Regions from separate parts of the Homo sapiens genome. Here all the other regions are linked to region 2. The links come from fine-mapping of genetic effects on gene expression. A gene starts in region 2. Each other region holds a variant in brackets. All regions are shown on one strand. Distances are from middle to middle.

Region 1 (6,297 bases), 350 kb before region 2:
CTGGGACCACAGGCATGTGCCACCATGCCCAGCTTTTTTTTTTTTTTTTTTTTTTTGAGAGGAGTCTCACTCTGTCACCCAGGCTGGAGTGCAGTGGCGCGATCTTGGCTCACTGCAACCTCCGCCTCCCGGGTTCAAGTGATTCCCCTGCCTCAGCCTCCCGAGTAGCTGGGACTACAGGTGTCCACCACCATGCTCAGCTAATTTTTGTATTTTTAGTAGAGATGGGGTTTCACCATGTTGGCCAGGATGGTCTCAATCTCTTGACCTCGTGATCCACCCACCTCAGCCTCCCAAAGTGCTATGATTACAGGCGTGAGCTACCACACCCAGCCCAGCTAATTTTTATTTTTGGTAGAGATGGGCTGGTCTGGAACTCTTGGCTCAAGTGATCCTCCCACCTCAGCCTCCCAAAGTGTTGGGATTACAAGCATGAGCCACCACACCAGCTATTAACCTTGGTTTCTAGTGAAAACTAGCAAGTAAACACTTGTCAACTTTTTGCATACATACCAACATTCTGCAGATTGGCAAATCTGTGAATATACCATGTCATAATTTCTAGAAGTGTGTGTTTCTTTATCATACAATTTTTCAATATGGCACAGGATGTGTTTGCTGGCAGAGACAAGTATGTTTAGTACTTCTATAATAAGAAGCCAAAAGTAGACAAGCTTATGTTTAGCAATCAAAGTTTCAGTATTTTATGTTATTCAAAAAAAATAAGGTTTAAAAAATATCTTTCTAGATAGTCGATGAATAACCATCATTTAATTTAACTTGACTCTAACAGTGCAAGCTACCAAAGAGAATCGGCAAGCTGCTTTTAAGTAGATGTTTCATAACAGCAGACAAGGCTAGACATCATCAAATTGCTTTTCTTGGTGGCAACTCTTGTAACAGAGATAACATAAGTTTTTGCCTAATAAACCTAGGTAAAACCAAAGTTGTGTGTCTGCGTTTTATTTAATGCTGACAACTCTAAATATTTCATTAAACCAGAAAAGTTTAAATAGCATTTATTTACCAACTATAATCTCAGATGACATGAAATTTAAAAAACATTTGGGTTAGTTTCTATATTTCTAAGAGTTTAAGGATAACTCAACTTATATAAGCTCATATTTTTCTTTAAGCCAATTAAATACCACTTTTTTATAAATTAATTTTGGCAACGCAATCTAGAGTAGGAAAATGTCACGTGTACATGTATACATAGACATACATAAACATACAGACAGAAGCAGATCATATAGCTTTCTTTTTTTTTTTCACACTCTTCAGACACTAGAGTGTTACAGCTTCATTCTAAAATCTTAGCCACATGCCAAGCACAGTAATACAAAACACACTGTTTAATACAAGAACAATAGGCTTCAAATCTTGTTTCTGGCACATGGAACAAGTCAAAATTACTTGCCAGATGATTAAAGCTTTTATTAATATTTGCGGGAAAGACTTAAGGTTTTTCATTTGCCCAATTTCCATATAGCTCTTTTTTTTTCTTTTCTCATAAGATGGCTTCCCAAAATTTGCATATCAAAGAGATAACCCTCAGGTGTTTGAGCAGAGTAGAAAATTTACATCTCAAAGGCACAGAACTTAGACTTCAGCCTTAAATATCTTCATTTGAAGAAGAGAAAAAAAGAAAGAAATGAAAAAAAGAAAGAGAAAGAGAAAAGAAAGAAAGGAAGAGAAAAAAAGAGAAGGAGAAAGAAGGAAGGAAGGAAGGAAGGGGAAGGGATGGGAAGGGAAGGGAAGGAAAGGAAAGAAAGAAAAAAGCAAGCAAGCAAGAACAAGGAAAGAAAGAAGGAAGGAAGGGAGGGAAGGGAAGGGAAGGGAAGGAAAGAAGAAAGAAAAAAGCAAGAACAAGGAAAGAAGGAAGGAAGGAAAGAAAGAAAAAAGAAAGAAAGAAAAAGAAAAGGAAGGAAGGAAAAGGAAAGAGGAGGAAGGAGGGAAGGAAGAAAGGAAGGAAAGGGAAGGGAAGAAGGAAGGAATGAGAAAGAAAGGAAGGAAGGAAAAGGAAAGGAAAGAAAAGAAAAGAAAAAAGAGAGAGAAAGCAAGCAAAGCGCTAATTAAGCCAAGATGGGGGTCAGAAATGCACGCTAAGTAAAGGTAAGTTTTGTGATGTAGATTTAAATCAATGCTTTCTCCATTCTTTTTTTTTGTTGTTTACTTTGTTTTGTTTTGTTTTGTTTTGAGACAGAGTCTTATTTTACAACCCGGCTGGAGTGCAGTGGTGCGATCATAGCTCACTGCAACCTCAAACTGTTGGTTAAATTTCTTTGTAAAGATGGGGTGAGAGGGTTTGGATTTGTGTCCCCACCCAAATCTCATGTCAAATTGTAATCCTCAGTGTTGGAGGAGGAGCCTGGTGGGAGGTGATTGGATCATGGGGGCAGACTTACCCCTTGCTGTTCTCAGGATAGTGAGTTCTCATGAGATCTGGTTGTTTAAAAGTGTGTGGCACCTCCCCCTTCTGTCTCTTCCTCCTGCTCCAGCCATGCAAGACGTGCCCCCTTCCTCTTCACCTTCTGCCATGATTGTAACTTTCCTGAGGCCTCCCCAGCCATGTGTCCTCTTTTCTTTTGCCTTTTTTTTTTTTGAGACACAGTCTTGCTGTGTCACCCAGGCTGGAGTGCAGTGGCGCGATCTCAGCTCACTACAACGTCCACCTCCCAGACTGAAGCAATTGTCCTGCCTTAGCCAGCTGAGTAGCTGGGATTACAGGTGCACGCCACCATACCTGGCTAATTTTTGTATTTTTAGTAGAGATGGGGTTTCACCATGTTGGCCAGGCTGGTCTCAAACTCCTGACCTCAACCTGCCTCAGCCTCCCAAAGTGCTGTGATTAAGGCATGAGCCACCACACCCAGCCTAAACCTCTTTTCTGTATAAATTACCCAGACTCAGATAGTTCTTTACAGCAATGAGAGAAGGGACTAATACACCGACTCTTACTATGTCACCCAGGCTGGTCTTGAACTCCTGGGCTCAAGCAACCCTCCTCCCTCAGCCTCCCAAAGTGCTGGCATTATAGGCATGAGCCACCACTTCTATCTCCTTTATAGAATTAAATTTTTCTTACAAAGGGTCTCAAAAGAATTGGATCAAAATAATCTTTATGCCAGAGTAGCACATTTGGGGCCTACGTTGGCTAGATCAGAGGCTTCTCAGCCCAGTTTATGCTTTTTAACTCCATCACTGAGTTCAGGGTGGCGCCTACTGATGAACTGGCAAGCATTTTCCATGCCTGGAGTTAGCATGAATAGGCCAGGATATAATTCTACATCATCAGCAAATTTCTGGGACAGGGAAACCTTTCACTATTGTTCTGAGCTCAGATTTTAATCAAGATGTCAATGTGGTTAAAGAAGGAAGGCCTGGTTGATCTAAAGGCCTAACACGATGAAAGTTTGGCTAACTTTCTTTTTGCCTCTGGGGTATAAAAGTTACTGAGCAAAAAAGTGAGTAGTTCAGAGCAATCTGGCAGAGCAAGATGGAGAGAAAGAGAGAAGGGCTCATCTGTGCTGAGTCAGTAGACATGCCCTTTTTCATTGTCAATTAACTGCTTTGGTTTTCTATTTGCCTTTTTCTATGGAGTCTTTTAGAGAGACAACTTGGGATTCATTTAGTCTTTTAGCAGCCTGTGCATGCCAATCAAAAAATCATC[T/C]GGGCATGGAGGTTCTCGCCTGTAATCCCAGCACTTTGGGAGGCTGAGGCAGATGGATCACTTGAGCTCAGGAGTTCGAGACCAGCCCGGCAACATGGCGAAAACCCATCTCTACTAAAAATACAAAAAATTAGCTGGGCTTGGTGGTGCATGCCTGTAGTCCCAGCTACTCAGGAGGCTGAGGCAGGAGAATCACTTGAACCCAGGAGGTGGAGGTTGCAGTGAGCCGAGATCACACTACTGCACTCCAGCCTGGGTGACAGAGTGAGACTCTGTGTCAAAAACAACATGTGAATTAAAAAATGCATTCCATTTTCTCTTAGTTGCTTTGGATCCCATCTTTTGCAGTGGATACCACAGATGAACAGCTTTGTCTAGGTCATCACTTACCCACTGCGGCCACCACTTAATTCTAAGGTGTCTTTGGTAAAGTTCACCAGTTTCTCTAGACAAGTACTGGTTCTCAGGTGGAGGAATCTCAGACTCTGTGGATTCAGATAAACTCATTATTCTGTCTTCCCAAACCCTTACCTATGTGAAGATGCCTACTAGGCCCAGTTCAGTTTCTGATAGATCCAGTTTGACGCTAGATCTAGTCTGGATTTTTTTTTTTTTTTTTGAGACTGAGTATCACTCTGTCGCCCAGGCTGGAGTGCAATGGCACGATCTCGGCTCACTGCAACCTCCGCCCCCCGAGTTCAAGCGATTCTCCTGCTTCAGCCTCCCGAGCAGCTGGGATTACAGGCACCTGCCACCACACCTGGCTAATTTTTGTAGTTTTAGTAGAGACAGGGTTTCACCATCTTGGCCAGGCTGGTCTTGAACTCCTGACCTCGTGATCTGCCCACCTCAGCCTCCCAAAGTGCTGGGATTACAGGCATGAGCCACTGTGCTTGGCCCTGGAATTTTTTTTTTTCTTTAATGCTCAAATAAAGTTGGAGATCTTAGGATGAAAGTTGTGGAACTTGCATGAAGTAGAAAAATTAGGCCAGGCACGGTGGCTGACGCCTGTAATCCCAGCACTTTGGGAGGCCAAGACGGGCAGATCACCAGGTCAGGAGATCGAGAACATCCTGGCTAACACAGTGAAACCCTGTCTCTACTAAAAATACAAAAAAATTAGCTGGGCGTGGTGGCAGGCGCCTGTAGTCCCAGCTACTCGGGAGGCTGAGGCACGAGAATGGCGTGAACCCGGGAGGCAGGGCTTGCAGTGAGCCAAGATCGCACCACTGCACTCCAGCCTGGGCAACAGAGTGAGACTCCGTCTCAAAAAAAAAAAAAAAGGCAACTGCCTTCTTTGTCTGGTGCTCAGACTTTCAGGACGCATGTCTGCTGAGCCGGTGTACACCTTAAATAAACTCTCCTTCACCCCGTTCCATCTCTCCAGCTTCCCGATTTCCTGCAACAGCATCCAGGAGGGATCTACTGGTGGGGATTCCACATCAGCAGCAAGAAAGCAGTGAGTACAGAGGCTCCACAGGCGTCCACACCAGATTCTTCATTGCTGCCAGGTGTCTTTATGGCCAGGAGGAGACTCTTCCAGGTCTCCCTTCTGACACCTGAACTGCTAAAAAGATAAACAGACACATTAAAAAATTTTAGGGTCTATTTTAGCAAACAGCAATTCATGAATTGGGCAGCTCCAAACTGCAAGTCATTCAGGGCTCCCGGAAAACATTTACAAGGTACACATGGAAGCAAAATTTATAAAAAAAAATTGGGCCCGGCGCGGGGGCTCATGCCTGTAATCCCAGCACTTTGGGAGGTCGAGGCGGGCGGATCACGAGGTCAGGAGATCGAGACCATCCTGGCTAACACAGTGAAACCCCGTCTCTACAAAAAACACACACACAAAAAAAATAGCCGGGTGTGGTGGTGGGCGCCTGTAGTCCCAGCTACTCAGGAGGCTGAGGCAGGAGAATGGCGTGAACCCGGGAGGCAGAGGTTGCAGTGAGCCAAGATCGTGCCACTGCACTCCAGCCTGGGTGACAGAGCAAGACTCTGTCTCAAACAAACAAACAAACAAATAAACAAAAAATTGATTGGTTAAATTAAAGCAGTAGCTTCAAAGTCCTTAGTTTGAAGCTGCGTTTTCATGGTATCTAATGATTGTGTCTAGTTTGAAGTCATGTTAGGATCCAGCCATTCATGCTGAGTTGGGTTTCAGTTACCTTATCTAAGAACTCAGGGCACTGGGAGCGTCCTCAATCTAATGGCCTCCCAATTAATTATTTCAACATAATTTTCTGAGAAATCGGGTATCAATCTAATTCCTGTTTCATTGTAGGAGACCTATTTTTTCTTTCTGGAACTTTCTCTTTCTGGAACTTTTTCTTTGATACTCTTCAGTTTCACTGTGGTACATGAAAATGTAGGTTATTTCTTATCTCACCTCTTTGCAGCCTTTCGGTCTGAAGCCCTTCATCTTTCCTCAATTCTGGGAATGTTAGCTGTATTATTTATTCGGGTATTTCTTTCTCCCACTGCTTTTGGCTCCCCCTTCTAGAACATGGAATAGTGACAGGTATGCACCCCTCTCTCTTTCCCTCCTCTCAGCTCCGTGTTGCATGTGCCCTTTCTTTATTCTTCCACGATAATTCCTAGCACCATTCTCAACGGAGCTG
Region 2 (6,297 bases):
GTCTTCCTGTGATGCTCCTAGGCCAAGCAAGTGGCTCTTCTGTCACCCAGAGTTCTAGAATGTCCTGTGTCCAGGGCAATCTCTGGCACACAGCAGATGCTTAAAAGATACTGGTTGAATGAGTCCTGACCATACCATTAACCCAGCACTCACCAAACTGCCCTAAAAATGCCTGTTTGCAGCCGGGCGCGGTGGCTCACGCCTGTAATCCCAGCACTGTGGGATGCCAAGGCGGGCGGATCACCTGAGGTCAGGAGTTCGAGACCAGCCTGACCAACATAGAGAAACCCCATCTCTACTAAAAATACAAAATTAGCCGGGCGTGGTGGCACATGCCTGTAATCCCAGCTACTCGGGAGGCTGAGGCAGGAGAATCACTTGAACCCGGGAGGCGGGAGGTTGCGGTGAGCTGAGATCACACCATTGCACTCCAGCCTGGGCAACAAGAGCGAAACTCCGTCTCAAAAAAAAAAAAAGGCATGTTTGCTGTCTGTCTCCACGACCAGACCACACCAGGTGCACGGTTCCCTCATCCTCGCCTCTCAGCACCACAAGCCCCGGCATGCGGCGCGCGGCCACAGTGAGTGCTCAACGCCAGGCCCATGGCAGCCCTGGGAGCAGCCGCCCAAAGCCTCCTCAGGCGGCAGCGTGTCCTGCTGAGTTACTTAAACCTGGAAACCACTTGACGTCAGCTGTTCGTAATTTTTAAAAAGTATTAAAGTGCTTTTACCACATCAAAACACAACTACCATATTTTTCAGAAGAAAACACACGTCAGCACATTTCTCTGACATCATGATGAACAGCATCATTTTTCTTTTATGCATTCAGAAAAATACGTGCAAAAATGACAAAAACCTGAAATCAACCTCATGGCTCCAAATCCCAACGTCAAACCAGAGTTTAGCGACGGACGCCAACCCCTGAGAGTCACAAAGCCTTCCCTCACTTTTTTTTCTTAACCAACCAAACAAGCAGCAGTGACCCCTTTGCCTTCGAGGGCCACTCAGCTGACCAAGGGCAGCCCAGACGCTGCTGGCCCCCACCCAGCCCCCAGGCCGAACAAGCACCCAGAGCACACGCAATGCCCTGACATACCCAGCACACCAGGACTGGGATCCAGTTCCTCAACCCGCAAAGCTCCGTAGGGGAAAAGTGCCTCACAACGCAACAAGAAGCTCCTCCCAAGGGTCTCAACACTGAGCTGTGAGTCCCTGGGGGACACTCGGGAACTCCAATGGGGAAGAATACAGTGCGTTAGGAAGCCAGTGGGTGGGGAAGTCTATGCCCCACGGACACAAGGGCGGGACACAGGAGGTGGGTGGACGGCACCAGCCCCGTAGGGCATCTGTGAGCTCTGCCACGGGCTCCCAGTGTTTTGGAGCCTGAGAAGGAGACTGACCTGTGTGGCAAGAAACTATAAGCAGCTTATATAAAAATGTGGACTGGAAAGCCACAGCAGCCTCCCCAAAGGAAGCCCGACAGGAAGCGGGGCAGGAGGAGCAGGTCCTTAGGGAAAAAGGCAAGAGGAAGAGGGAGGACTGGGAGGGGAGCCTGCACAGGTGGCTCCGCAGCCCCCCTGGGCCACCACACAGCCACGCTGACCTCTGGCATCATGGCCTCCAGCAGGCTGCCCACCCCTGGCTCCCCAGCGCTCAGGTCATGCCTGAACTGGCCCTCAGGAAGTGGGGGGTTCCTGGTGACCACAGGTGCCCACCCACCCCAGGGCTTCTCCAGGACAGGTGGGGGGAGCCAGGATGGACGAAGGCAGGGCAGGGGCAGAGCTGCACAGGGGGGACCAGTAGGAGGCGGGGCTGCCACAAAGAAAAGGGGGGCAGGGGGCAGGTGTGTGCAGGGCAGGGCCAGGTCAGGTGAGGCTAGGCAGGTCACCAGGGGCAGGTGTGCGGGGCAGGTGTTTGGGGTAGGTGGGGCAGGCTGGTCACCTGGGGCAGGTATGTGGGGCAGGTGTGCGGGGCAGGTAGGGCAGGCCGATCACGTGGGGCAGGTGGGGAAGGCTGGAAACGTCGAGCAGGTGTGCGAGGCAGGTATTTGTGGCAGGTGGGGCAGGCTGGTCACCTGGAGCAGGTACGTGGGGAAAGTGTGAGGGGCGGGTGGGGCAGGTGTGAGAGGCAGATGTGAGGGGTGAGCTAGTCACGTGGGGCAGGTGTGCAGGGCGGGTGGGGCGGGCGGGTCACGTGGAGCAGGTGTGAGGGGCAGGTGTGCAGGGCGGGTGGAGCGGGCTGGTCACGTGGAGCAGGTGTGAGGGACAGGTGTGGCGGGCTGGTCACCTGGGACAGTTGTGCGGGGCAGGCGCGCGGGGTAGGCGCGCGGGAACCGGACGAGGCGAGAGGCCGGCGGGCGCACTTGCCTGCGAAGGCTGCGGCAGCGGCGGCCTCGTCGGGGCCGGGCAGGGCCTCGGCGCCCATGTCCATGTGCCCGGGCTCCGCCGCCATCACCGCCACTGCCGTGACCCGCGGCGTCTCCCGCTCCGCCTCCGAGTCTGCGTCCTCCTCCGAGTCCTCGTCCCTGCTCAGCACCGGCTCCTCCGCCTCGCCTCCTGCCGCGGCCGCGGCCGCCGCCGCCACAGCGGCCGCGGCCGCCACCGCCGCCGCCTCAGCCAGGCCCAGCTGCTTTGCCGCCGAGTCCGAGTCCTCCATCCGGACTCCGCCGAGCCTTCCCGAAGGCGCCGTCCGGGACCGCCCGAAGCGCCGGTCGCGGAGCCCGAAGCGGGGCCCGAAGAGGACGCCCGAGCTGGGCCGAGGCCGCCCGAAGCCGCCGCCCGAATAGGGACCGAAAAGGCAGCCAGCCGCCGAGCAGAGCCGAGCCGAGTCCGCCCGCGGAGCGGAGCCGAGGCGAACAGAGGCTGCCCGAGTAGGAGCCGAACCTGCACGAAGCCGCCGAGCCGAGACCGAGTCCTGAACCGAGGAGGGTCGAAGTTCCCCGAAGTGGGAAGCCGAATCAGTCCGAATAGGTCCGAGTCCTCACGAGGGCTTCCGAGAGACTCGGCCCCTGCTCTCCTCACTGTCCTGACAGGCTGAGGCGGCTGTCGTCCCCGGCCGACAGGGCTGGACGGCTCTAGGCAGATTCTCGCCGGCGGCCGGCGCAATTCTGCCTCTCAGAGAGAGCTTAGTGCCGCGGGTTTCGCCCGTTCCCGCCGCCGGCGGAAGCCGAGTCAGCCCGAGGCCGAGCCGAGACGAGCCGAATGTCCCCGAGGCCGAATGCTCCCGAACGTCGGTTCTCCACCTCTTCCCTTCCGAAAGTGCCCGAGCGGTGCCGGACGGACTAATCGGGCCTCGGCCGTGGCTCGGACGTCCGCTCCCGAAACGCGGCGCGGTCGGGCCCCTTCGTCAGGAGACGCGAAAATGGCCGAAGGAGCGCGAGCGCGCGGGCCGAGAGGCTGCCGGGATCGCGACGGACCGGCGGGCGGGGCGGGTAAGATGGCGGCCCCGCGGCGAGGTGAGCTCGGGCGGGGTGGGGGCTTCCGGGCTTGCAGCGGCGGGCGCGGCGTTTCCCTGTGGTGACAATCCGGTTTCCGCTTTCGGTGCGCTCACGGGGCCGTGCCACCGTCTCTACGTGAGCGAGACAGCTCCGTCACCCCATCGAGAAGCGCGGCCTGGCCTGGCCTGGGTGGCGGGCGTCCTGCACCCCGAAGAGCTCCCCCGCGCGCGGGCGCCTGGCCCCGGGCAGGGTGGGTGCGGAGCGGCTCTGGGGGCCCCAGTCCCCGGCAGCTCTTGTCCCGCGCGTGGTTTTTGTGAAGACACGTGGGCGGGATGGGCGCAGGGTTTCGGTAGCCTTGGAACTCTCGCCAAAGAAAATCGCGGGCGCCGGTGCCTCAGCCGTCCTGCCTGAGAGACTCGCCTCCGAGAGGAGGAAGGGACAGACCAAAGCAGTAAATCGGCCATCCTGCAGAGGAGCCGCCTTCTGCTGTCTGTGGGTACAGCCAGAACTCCCATACGCGGGCGCTGAAGTGCCAAACCTTCGTGCGTGTTCTCTAGTAATTAGGTGCATTGTTTTGAAGGAATAAAGAATGGCTACTCCATAGGCAGGACAGCCTCTAGTAACCAGGTTTGTTTTGTGTATTTTCATTTGGTTAAAAATTAAGTTTAGGTTGGGCGCAGTGGCTCAGGCCTGTAAGCCTGACAGTTTGGGAAGCCGAGGCTGCAGGATCATTTGAGGCCAGCCTGGGCAACATAGCAAGACCCCCTCTATAAAAAAAAAACTGTAAACATCAGCCAGGCGGTGGCGCACCCCTGTGGGCCAAGCTATTCTGGAGGCTGAGGCTGGCGGATCACTTGAGCCCAGGAGGTCGAGGTTGCAGTGAGCCGTGATGGCGCCACTGCACTCCAGCCTGGGCGACAGAGCGAGACCCCCTTCTACAAAAAAAAAATTAAAAATTACCCCGGGGAAGGCCAGGCGCAGTAGCTCACGCCTGTAATCCCAGCACTTTGGGAGGCCAAAGCGGGCGGATCACCTGAGGTCGAGGGTTCAAGACCAGCCTGACCAACATGGAGAAACCCCGTCTCTACTAAAAATACAAAATTAGCCTGGCGTGATGGTGCATGCCTGTAATCCCAGCTACTTGAGAGTCTGAGGCAGGAGAATTGCTCGAACCCGGTGGTGGTGGTGGGGGGGGTGGGGTGCGGAGGTTGCAGTTGGCCAAGATCGCACCATTGCACTGCAGCCTGGGCAACAAGAGCGAAATTCTGTCTCAAAAAAAAAAAAAATTACCTCAGGGAGCCTGTGGTCCCAGCTACGTGGGAGGCTGAGGCTGGCGGATCACTGGAGCCCAGGAGGTTGAGACTGCAGTGAGCTGTGATCAGGCCACTGCACTCCAGCCTGGGCAACAGAGCAAAACCCTGTCTCTAAAAAAACTAAGTGTATACCAAAACAAGATTTCTTAACACATCTTGTCCATTACATCAGGGAAAACACTTGTTCTCTTTCACTTCCATGTTTAACTTCTGCCTGACACAGCTATTCGTAGCCACATTGTGATTATAGTAAGTCACTGACAAAAAATGTTGTCCTGAAAGCCAAGGCTACGTTCGGTCAGAATGAGCTCCTGCAGGTCTGGAATTGTTAGAACAGCGTATCTGGTTATAGCCGCCCTTCATATTAATTATTAAAATGTTACATCACTTAAGGCTTTTATACAGTTTTTCCCCCAAGCCCCATAACTTCAATCTATAACAGTGAGCAACTAGCAGACACATTGGAAGTGTTTAAGAAGCCAGCCTTTAAGAAAAGGAACAGAAGGGACAAAAACCCCAATTAATGCGAAATCATCACAGATAATGACAGGTATTTAGGTGGCCTGGTTTAGCTAAGGCCTGGAAAAGAACAGATCGGGTTTAAAGAGTGGCCTGCCGGGAACGCGATGCGGCGTGGTCTGCCGTGCACTTGGCTTCCTGCTTCCATCCTGTGGTGCCTCTTCCAGGAGCCCAGTTCTGAGTCTCTGATGCCGATGTCCTGTATTTACTGGCTTAAAACTCTTGCCTGTGTGAGATTCCACAAACTCTGGCACAGAAGGCCCCAGATCTGCCCAAGAAGCTGTGGGATCAGCCACAAAATCTCACCAACGCCAGGTTTCTGTCCTGCCCTCCCTGGCGCTGAAGGGGAAATAGAACAGAGGCTGTGTTCAGGTTGCTGTCCTGCCTGCCGCCCAGCGGTGCAGCTTGAGCCTCCTTTTATGAGAGGTTTCCACCCAATTCTAGATGTGTATTGAGGTATCTACACATGGAGGGACGTGCACATATCACACGTGCAACTGGCCTGAGCCCTTTTCAGACAATTAGTCCGCTCCAGGTCAGCGTGGATCCAGGGTGAGTCAGAGGCGTCTTCAGATGCAAAACCTCAGAATCAAAAAGGAGGAAAGAGACTCCACTCACTCCTCGGGCTTCCTGTCATCTCTCAGGTGGGGGTGGGAGAAGGCCCAAGAGGTTGCATGATAAAAAGACTGGACAGCTGCATTGCTGGTTTGGAAAATCCTTATTTTTGGAGGGATATTTGGGGATAAAATTTCAGAGGAAAGCAAATGTCTCATCAATCATGAAAAAAGATTTGTTACAACCTAAGTCAGAAAAGGTTTTCATCTAGTCATATATGTGTGGCAAATACGGAGAAGCCACAGACGGTGAGCCACAGACAATGAGAGCAGCTGTTGGGGTGGGCTCCAGGGTGCTGCTTTCCCTGAGGGCCAGCTGGGTCTGGCCCAGGTTCACTTCCCACCCCGGTGCCCCCGGTACTCGCTGTCTCCAGCCTCAGGTTCTGAAAGGCAGAGACTCCTAGCCTCATTGA
Region 3 (6,262 bases), 270 kb before region 2:
GCAGGACAGAAGCGGGTAGGAAAGACACAGAACAGGCGGGGCAGGCCCTGCAGGTGAGCGGGGCACAGGTGCTCACACCCAGATGAACCGCACCCGCACGTGGGCACGCACACACACACACACACACACAGGGGAGGCCACAGGCTCCCAGATGAACCGCACCCACACGTGGGCGCGCGCACACACACACACACCCCCACACAGGGGAGGCCACAGGCTCCCAGACGAACCGCACCTGCACGTGGGCGCACACACACCCACACACACACAGGGGAGGCCACAGGCTCCCAGATGAACCGCACCCACACGTGGGCGCGCGCACACACACACACACCCCCACACAGGGGAGGCCACAGGCTCCCAGACGAACCGCACCTGCACGTGGGCGCACACACACACACACAGGCAAGGCCACAGGCTCCAACACACGCTCCAGACAGTGTCTGTTACGAGTGGCCTCGGTTTCTCCCCGTGGAAACGGCACGATGGGTTATTTTGTGTTTAAAATCACCTGCTTTCCATAATATGAGAAATACATGAACTATCTTAAACCAAAAGTCAGGCTCATGGTCAGTGGTGAAATCCCAAAAGCATTCCTATTGTAGCTCACGACAACTGGTATTTAACACGGTTCTGGAATTCCTTGCAAATAAGCAAGAGAAATATGAAGTATAAATAGTATACATTTGCAAAGAAAAAAATGACTCTTTTAGAAAACATGATTATGTACCTGGAAAATCAAAATAAAACAACTGAAAGCCTGGGTGGATAAATCAATCGAGTGCTCAAGTGGATACAAAACGAGCATCCAGCAGAACTGGCTTTTCCGTGTGCGGCAAAGCTGCGGGGAAACATGGCATGAGAAAGTATCGGTCACCCGCAGACACCAGCACAAGTTATACCATAACGAGACTGAAACTCACAAGGCATCTGTGGGGCCTAAATGAAGAAAACTATAAAACTACCAAGGAGCATGAAAGACTTGCAGGGAGAACCTCGTTCTCCCATAAGAAAACGGAGGATGTATTTGTAGTCAGAGCGATGGGCCGCAAAGACGTCCACGTGCTCATTCTTGGAGCCTGTGACCACGTTCTTACCTGGCAAAGGAATTTTATCTCACAAGGCAGATGGTATTAAGGCTGCTAATCAGCTGACTTTAAGACGGGGAGATTATCTTGGGTTATCTGGGTTTTTCTGGTGTAATCACAAGGGTCCCTCTGTGGGGACAGGGAGCAGCTGGGAGCTGGCCTGACTCAGAAGGAATCAGAAGGACTCAGGACTCACTCAGAAGGACTCAGCCCCACGCTGCAAGCTCTGCAGGGGGAGGAGCAGCCGTGCACCAAGGAGAAGCTGAAAGTGAATTATCCCCTGGAGCCTCCAGAAGGAGCCCAGCCCTGCTAACCCCTTAGTTTTCACCCAGTGGGACTCATCTAGGACTTGTGGCCTGCAGAACTGGGAGGTAATAATTTGATTGTTTGAAGCCACTAAGCTGTGGTCGTTTGTTATGGTGATTTTCTTGGAAATAATGTATCATTTTACTTATACAATCTTAAGCCAAGTCCCACAGAATTTTTTTTTTTTTTTTCAGACAGAGTCTTGCTCTGTCACCCAGGCTGGAGTGCAATGGCATGATCTTGGCTCACTACAACCTCCACCTTCCGGGTTTAAGTGATTCTCCTGCCTCAGCCTCCTGAGTAGCTGGGATTACAGGTGCGCGCCACCACGCCTGGCTAATTTTTGTATATTTAGTAAAGACGGGGTTTCACCATGCTGGCCAGGCTGGTCTCGAACTCCTGACCTCATGATCCGCCCACCTCGGCCTCCCAAAGTGCTGGGATTACAGGCGTGAGCCACCACACCCAGCTAGTCTCACAGAATTTTTGGCAATTTGACAAAATGATTCTGACATTCATCTGAAAGAATAAACATATGTAAATAACCATTAAAAAAGTAGAAAAGAAGAGTGATGGACAGCAGCTAGCCCCACCCTACAGCAAGGCATAAAGCAATAATACCCAGCACAGCAAGGGGCTGGTACTGGAATTGTCAGAATCCATGAGAAGACAATATATAAGCAAAGAATGGAATTTGGTGTATGACGAAGAAGGCATTTCAAGTTAAGAATGGTGATGGGGATGGTTAGTCAATCAATGGTTTGGGGACAACTGGGTGCCATTTGGAAAACAAACAAACAGCCTTCCTTCCTCTGCCCCTTGCAGCAAAACAAATTCCTTACAAGTCAGGGATTTGAAGGTTTAAGGGTTTTTGTGACAGGATCTCTGTCACTCGGGCTGGAGTGCAATGGTGAGATTATGGCTCACTATAGCCTCCACCTCCCAGGCTCCAGCGATCCTCCTACCTCAGCCTCCCAAGTAGCTAGGACTACAGGCCCAAACCACCACGCCCAACTAATTTTCTATTTTTTGTAGAGACGTGCGGTGGGGGGTTTGGGGGCAGTGGGTCTCACTACATTGCCCAGGCTGGTCTTGAACTCCCAGCCTCAAGTAATCCTCCTACCTTGGCCTCCCAAAATGCTGGGATTACAAGCATGAGCCACTGCACTCAGCCAAATGTTTAATATTTTGAAATCATAAACATCTAAAGGAAATCACAGTTGAATAC[T/TCACACACA]CACACACACACACACACACACACACACACACACACACATTTGAGATGGAGCCTCACTCTGTCACCCAGGCTGGAGCGCAATGGTGCGATTTCAGTTCACTGCAACCTCTGCCTCCTGGGTTCAAGTGATTCTTGTGCCTCAGCCTCCCGAGTAGCTGGGACTACAGGCTCACACCACCACGCCTGGCTAGTAGAGACGGGGTTTCTTCATGTTGGCCAGTCTGGTCTTGAACTCCTGACCTCAGGTGATCTGCCTGCCTCAGCCTCCCAAAGTGCTGGGATTTCAGGCATAAGCCACTGCACCTGGCCCACAGTTGAACATATTTATTAATCTTGAGGAGTGGCATGAAAAAATAGAACCATAAAGGAATACTGTCAAAAAGAAAATTTGCTCTAGTGTAACATGAGAAACCAGGTAGATTTTTCACGCTGTTTTCCGAGAGACCTCCCCATGCAAAGAGGCACAGAACTAAGCTCTAGAGCCAGACTTTGTGGTTTTTATCTGTTCCGCCACCCACTGGCTGTGTGTCCTGGAGATAATTTCTTAACCTCTCTGGTCCTCAGTCATCTATTCTGTAAAATGGCAATGAGAGAAGCTCTGCCCTATAGGGCTACTGTGCAGATTAAATGAGTTAATGATAGAATGTGTGAGTGGGCAATGGATGTAGCTACTATTATACAGACCCATCTCATCCATCAAGAAAAATCAATTCAGTTCCTTGGTCTTTAATACGAATGAATAACCACAGAGATTTACTCACAGAGGAGTAAGAGGAGAATAACGATTAAAAAACAAAAATGGACCCTTTAGGAAACAAGAGATAATTAGGGAACAGATGAGAACTCAGGGAGAAGGAAAACCTAATTGAAATCCTCAAGAACATAAAAACACGGAAGGGATGCTGTGAATAAAAAATAAAGAGGAAACAAAACACTCTTAGAAATTAAGACTTTAATTGTTAAACGTAAAACAAAGAAATCAATCGATGGAGAAAAAGGCACAAAGTGAAGGAAATCTCTCCAGATGTTACAAGGAGGAGACATGGACACGGGACGCGCGGGAGGAAAAGGCGGCGCGGAGACGGGACGCGCGGGAGGAAAAGGCGGCGGGGAGACGGGACGCGCGGGAGGAAAAGGCGGCGTGGAGAGACGGGACGCGCGGGAGGAAAAGGCGGCGTGGAGAGACGGGACGCGCGGGAGGAAAAGGCGGCGTGGAGAGACGGGACGCGCGGGAGGAAAAGGCGGCGTGGAGAGACGGGACGCGCGGGAGGAAAAGGCGGCGTGGAGAGACGGGACGCGCGGGAGGAAAAGGCGGCGTGGAGCGACGGGACGCGCGGGAGGAAAAGGCGGCGTGGAGAGACGGGACGCGCGGGAGCAAAAGGCGGCGTGGAGAGACGGGACGCGCGGGAGGAAAAGGCTCCCAAGGAAGATCTCTGGAAGAAAAGGGACTCCGTGCAATACACGATGTACCACAGAGAGGCTGGATACAATTGATAAAGACATTCAAGAAAAAGAGGCAAGTAGAAACCCCAGGAGATGGATTGGAAGGCAGACAAAATCAAAAACAACAAAAGATAAAGAAACTCCAGGAAAAACAAAGAGCTGTACAATAAATGTTACAAATATGATGCAAAGTAAAACATACCATGATTATAAGAAACTGACAGTTAAAAAAAAAAAAAAGCAAGCAAGAAAGAAGCCTGGCCTTCATGCTACGATAACCTAACAAAAATGCTCCGATAATATGAACAGTCAATTCATAGGAAAAAAAATACAATGATCAGTAAATATCTGGAAAGATGCTAGACTTCACCAATAGTTTTTTGTTTTTTGTTTTTTGTTTGTTTGTTTGTTTTGTTTTTTTTGAGACGGAGTCTCACTCTGTCGCCCAGGCTGGAGTGCAGTGGCGCGATCTCAGCTCACTGCAGGCTCTGCCTCCCGGGTTCACACCATTCTGCCTCAGCCTCCCCAGTAGCTGGGACTACAGGTGCCCGCCACCACGCCCGGCTAATTTTTTGTATTTTTTTTTAGTAGAGATGGGGTTTCACCGTGTTAGCCAGGATACTCTCAATCTCTTGACCTCATGATCCTCGTGCCTCGGCCTCCCAAAGTGCTGAGATGACAGGCGTGAGCCACCTCGCCCAGCCCCTCACCAGTAGTTTTTTAAAGGCACTTTTAAAAAATGAAAAGACTTTGCCCATCAGCTCAAGATGGAACATATAGTTTCACACACTGTGGGTAGCTTTGTCACTGACACAGCCTTTCTGGAGGTCTCTTTAGCAGGATCTATGTTAATGTAAATGCAAACTCCCAAGTCACAATTAAAATGGCGACTGCAGGTGCAGTGGGTCACACCTGTCATCCCAGCACGTGGGGACACCAAGGCAGGAGGATTGCTTGAGACTGCAGGTGCGGTAGCTCACACCTGTTATCCCGTAGCACGTTGGGAGGCCGAGGCAGGAGGATTGCTTGAGCCCAGGAGTTCGAGACAAGCCTGGGCAACATGGCAAAACCCCATCTCTACAAAAAATAGAAAAAATTAGCCAGGCATGGTGGCACATGCCTGTAGTCCCAGCTATTCGGGAGGCTGAGGCAGGAGGATTGCTGGAACCAGGAGTTTGAGGCTGTAGTGAGCTGTAATGGTACCACTGTACTCCAGCCTGGGGCAATGGATCAAGATACTGTCTCTAAAAGTAAATAAATAAAAATAAAATGACAGGCTGCTGACACCCACTACCAGGCATCACCTTAGAGGTGTAAGGGAATTGGAGAGGCCTGAAGTCCACTCAAGACATCAGGCTTTCGGGGGAGACACTCAGGAAGCAACCCAGCCCTGCCAGGATCCCCAGGAAGCCTCGGGACTTGGGTACCCCTGGTGGCTTGGGGGCACTGATTAGGGGAATGCAGGCCCAGCTGGAAGGTCCCTGGGCTTCCTACCTGACCACAAAACCCCCTCAGGAGGACTAGAAGCTCACTAGGGGTTTGAACAACCAGGGACTCAGCACACAGGGTTGGACCAATTGACACTGAGGCCCCACACTGTCCTCCCCAACCCCAGCTGGCCTCCCAGCACATAGACAGCGTCCTTCTGCCTCCAGACAGGAGACCAGGGTTCACCCGCAGGAGCTTCCAGAGTGAGAGGTCCCACCAGGAGAGACGTGGCCCACAGCAAGCCATGGTGCACGCCTTTCCCAAGACGGATGGGGGTCAAGAACCAGCATCTACAGGGCCAGACGTGGTGGCTCACCTGAGGTCAGGAGCTCGAGACCAGCCTGGCCAACATGGTGAAACCCTTTCTCTACAAAAAATACAAAAATTAGCTGGGTGTGGTGGTGCGCACCTGTGGTCCCAGCCACTCAGGAGGCTGAGGCAGGAGAATTGCTTGAACCCAGGAAGCAGAGGTTGTAGCGAGCCAAGATCATGCTACTGCACTCCAGCCTGGGCGACAGAGCGAGACTCCATCTCAAAAAAAAAGTAAAGCTGCAGCCAGCATCCCTCTCACCTCGCCTTCCTAATTAGTGAAATGAGTCTTTCTGGCTCCATCAATCCATATGCACCTTTTTTTGGCCAGGTGCAGTGGCTCACGCCTGAAATCCTAACACTTTGGGAAACTGAGGCAGGAGGATCGCTCGAGCCCAGG

Which allele goes with the higher level. Alleles are on the strand shown, and positions count from the first base shown. SD is a standard deviation of normalised expression in the study named. Not every link is listed here.
For the expression in monocytes of the gene that starts at base 3,426 in region 2, allele TCACACACA in region 3 goes with a lower level than allele T (moderate effect, 0.69 SD a copy in CEDAR).

Evidence for each region. PIP is the estimated chance that this variant, and not a neighbour inherited with it, causes the effect.
Region 1: its variant is fine-mapped to the expression of TMEM80 in Th1/17 cells (Schmiedel 2018, PIP 0.95).
Region 3: its variant is fine-mapped to the expression of TMEM80 in monocytes (CEDAR, PIP 0.95).

Annotation. Positions count from the first base shown.
Region 1 is chr11:339,187-345,483 of GRCh38, forward strand. No RefSeq gene overlaps it. Among named protein-coding and RNA genes, the nearest start is that of IFITM3, 21 kb to the left of the region's middle. The variant T/C (reference allele first, on the strand shown) is at 3,674.
Region 2 is chr11:692,391-698,687 of GRCh38, forward strand. It overlaps TMEM80 (transmembrane protein 80), which reads left to right and starts at 3,426. Exons shown (of 5, transcript NM_001042463.3): 1 at 3,426-3,456. The coding sequence starts at 3,438. DEAF1 (DEAF1 transcription factor) reads right to left here and starts at 2,832. Exons shown (of 12, transcript NM_021008.4): 1 at 2,369-2,832. The coding sequence starts at 2,657. RefSeq lists silencers at 2,204-2,453, 2,474-2,593, 2,604-2,903, 3,404-3,823 and enhancers at 2,269-2,808, 2,809-3,350, 3,351-3,890, 4,431-4,970.
Region 3 is chr11:421,263-427,524 of GRCh38, forward strand. All of the region lies in intron 15 of ANO9 (anoctamin 9), which reads right to left. Among named protein-coding and RNA genes, the nearest start is that of SIGIRR, 9.4 kb to the left of the region's middle. RefSeq lists an enhancer at 1-469. The variant T/TCACACACA (reference allele first, on the strand shown) is at 2,623.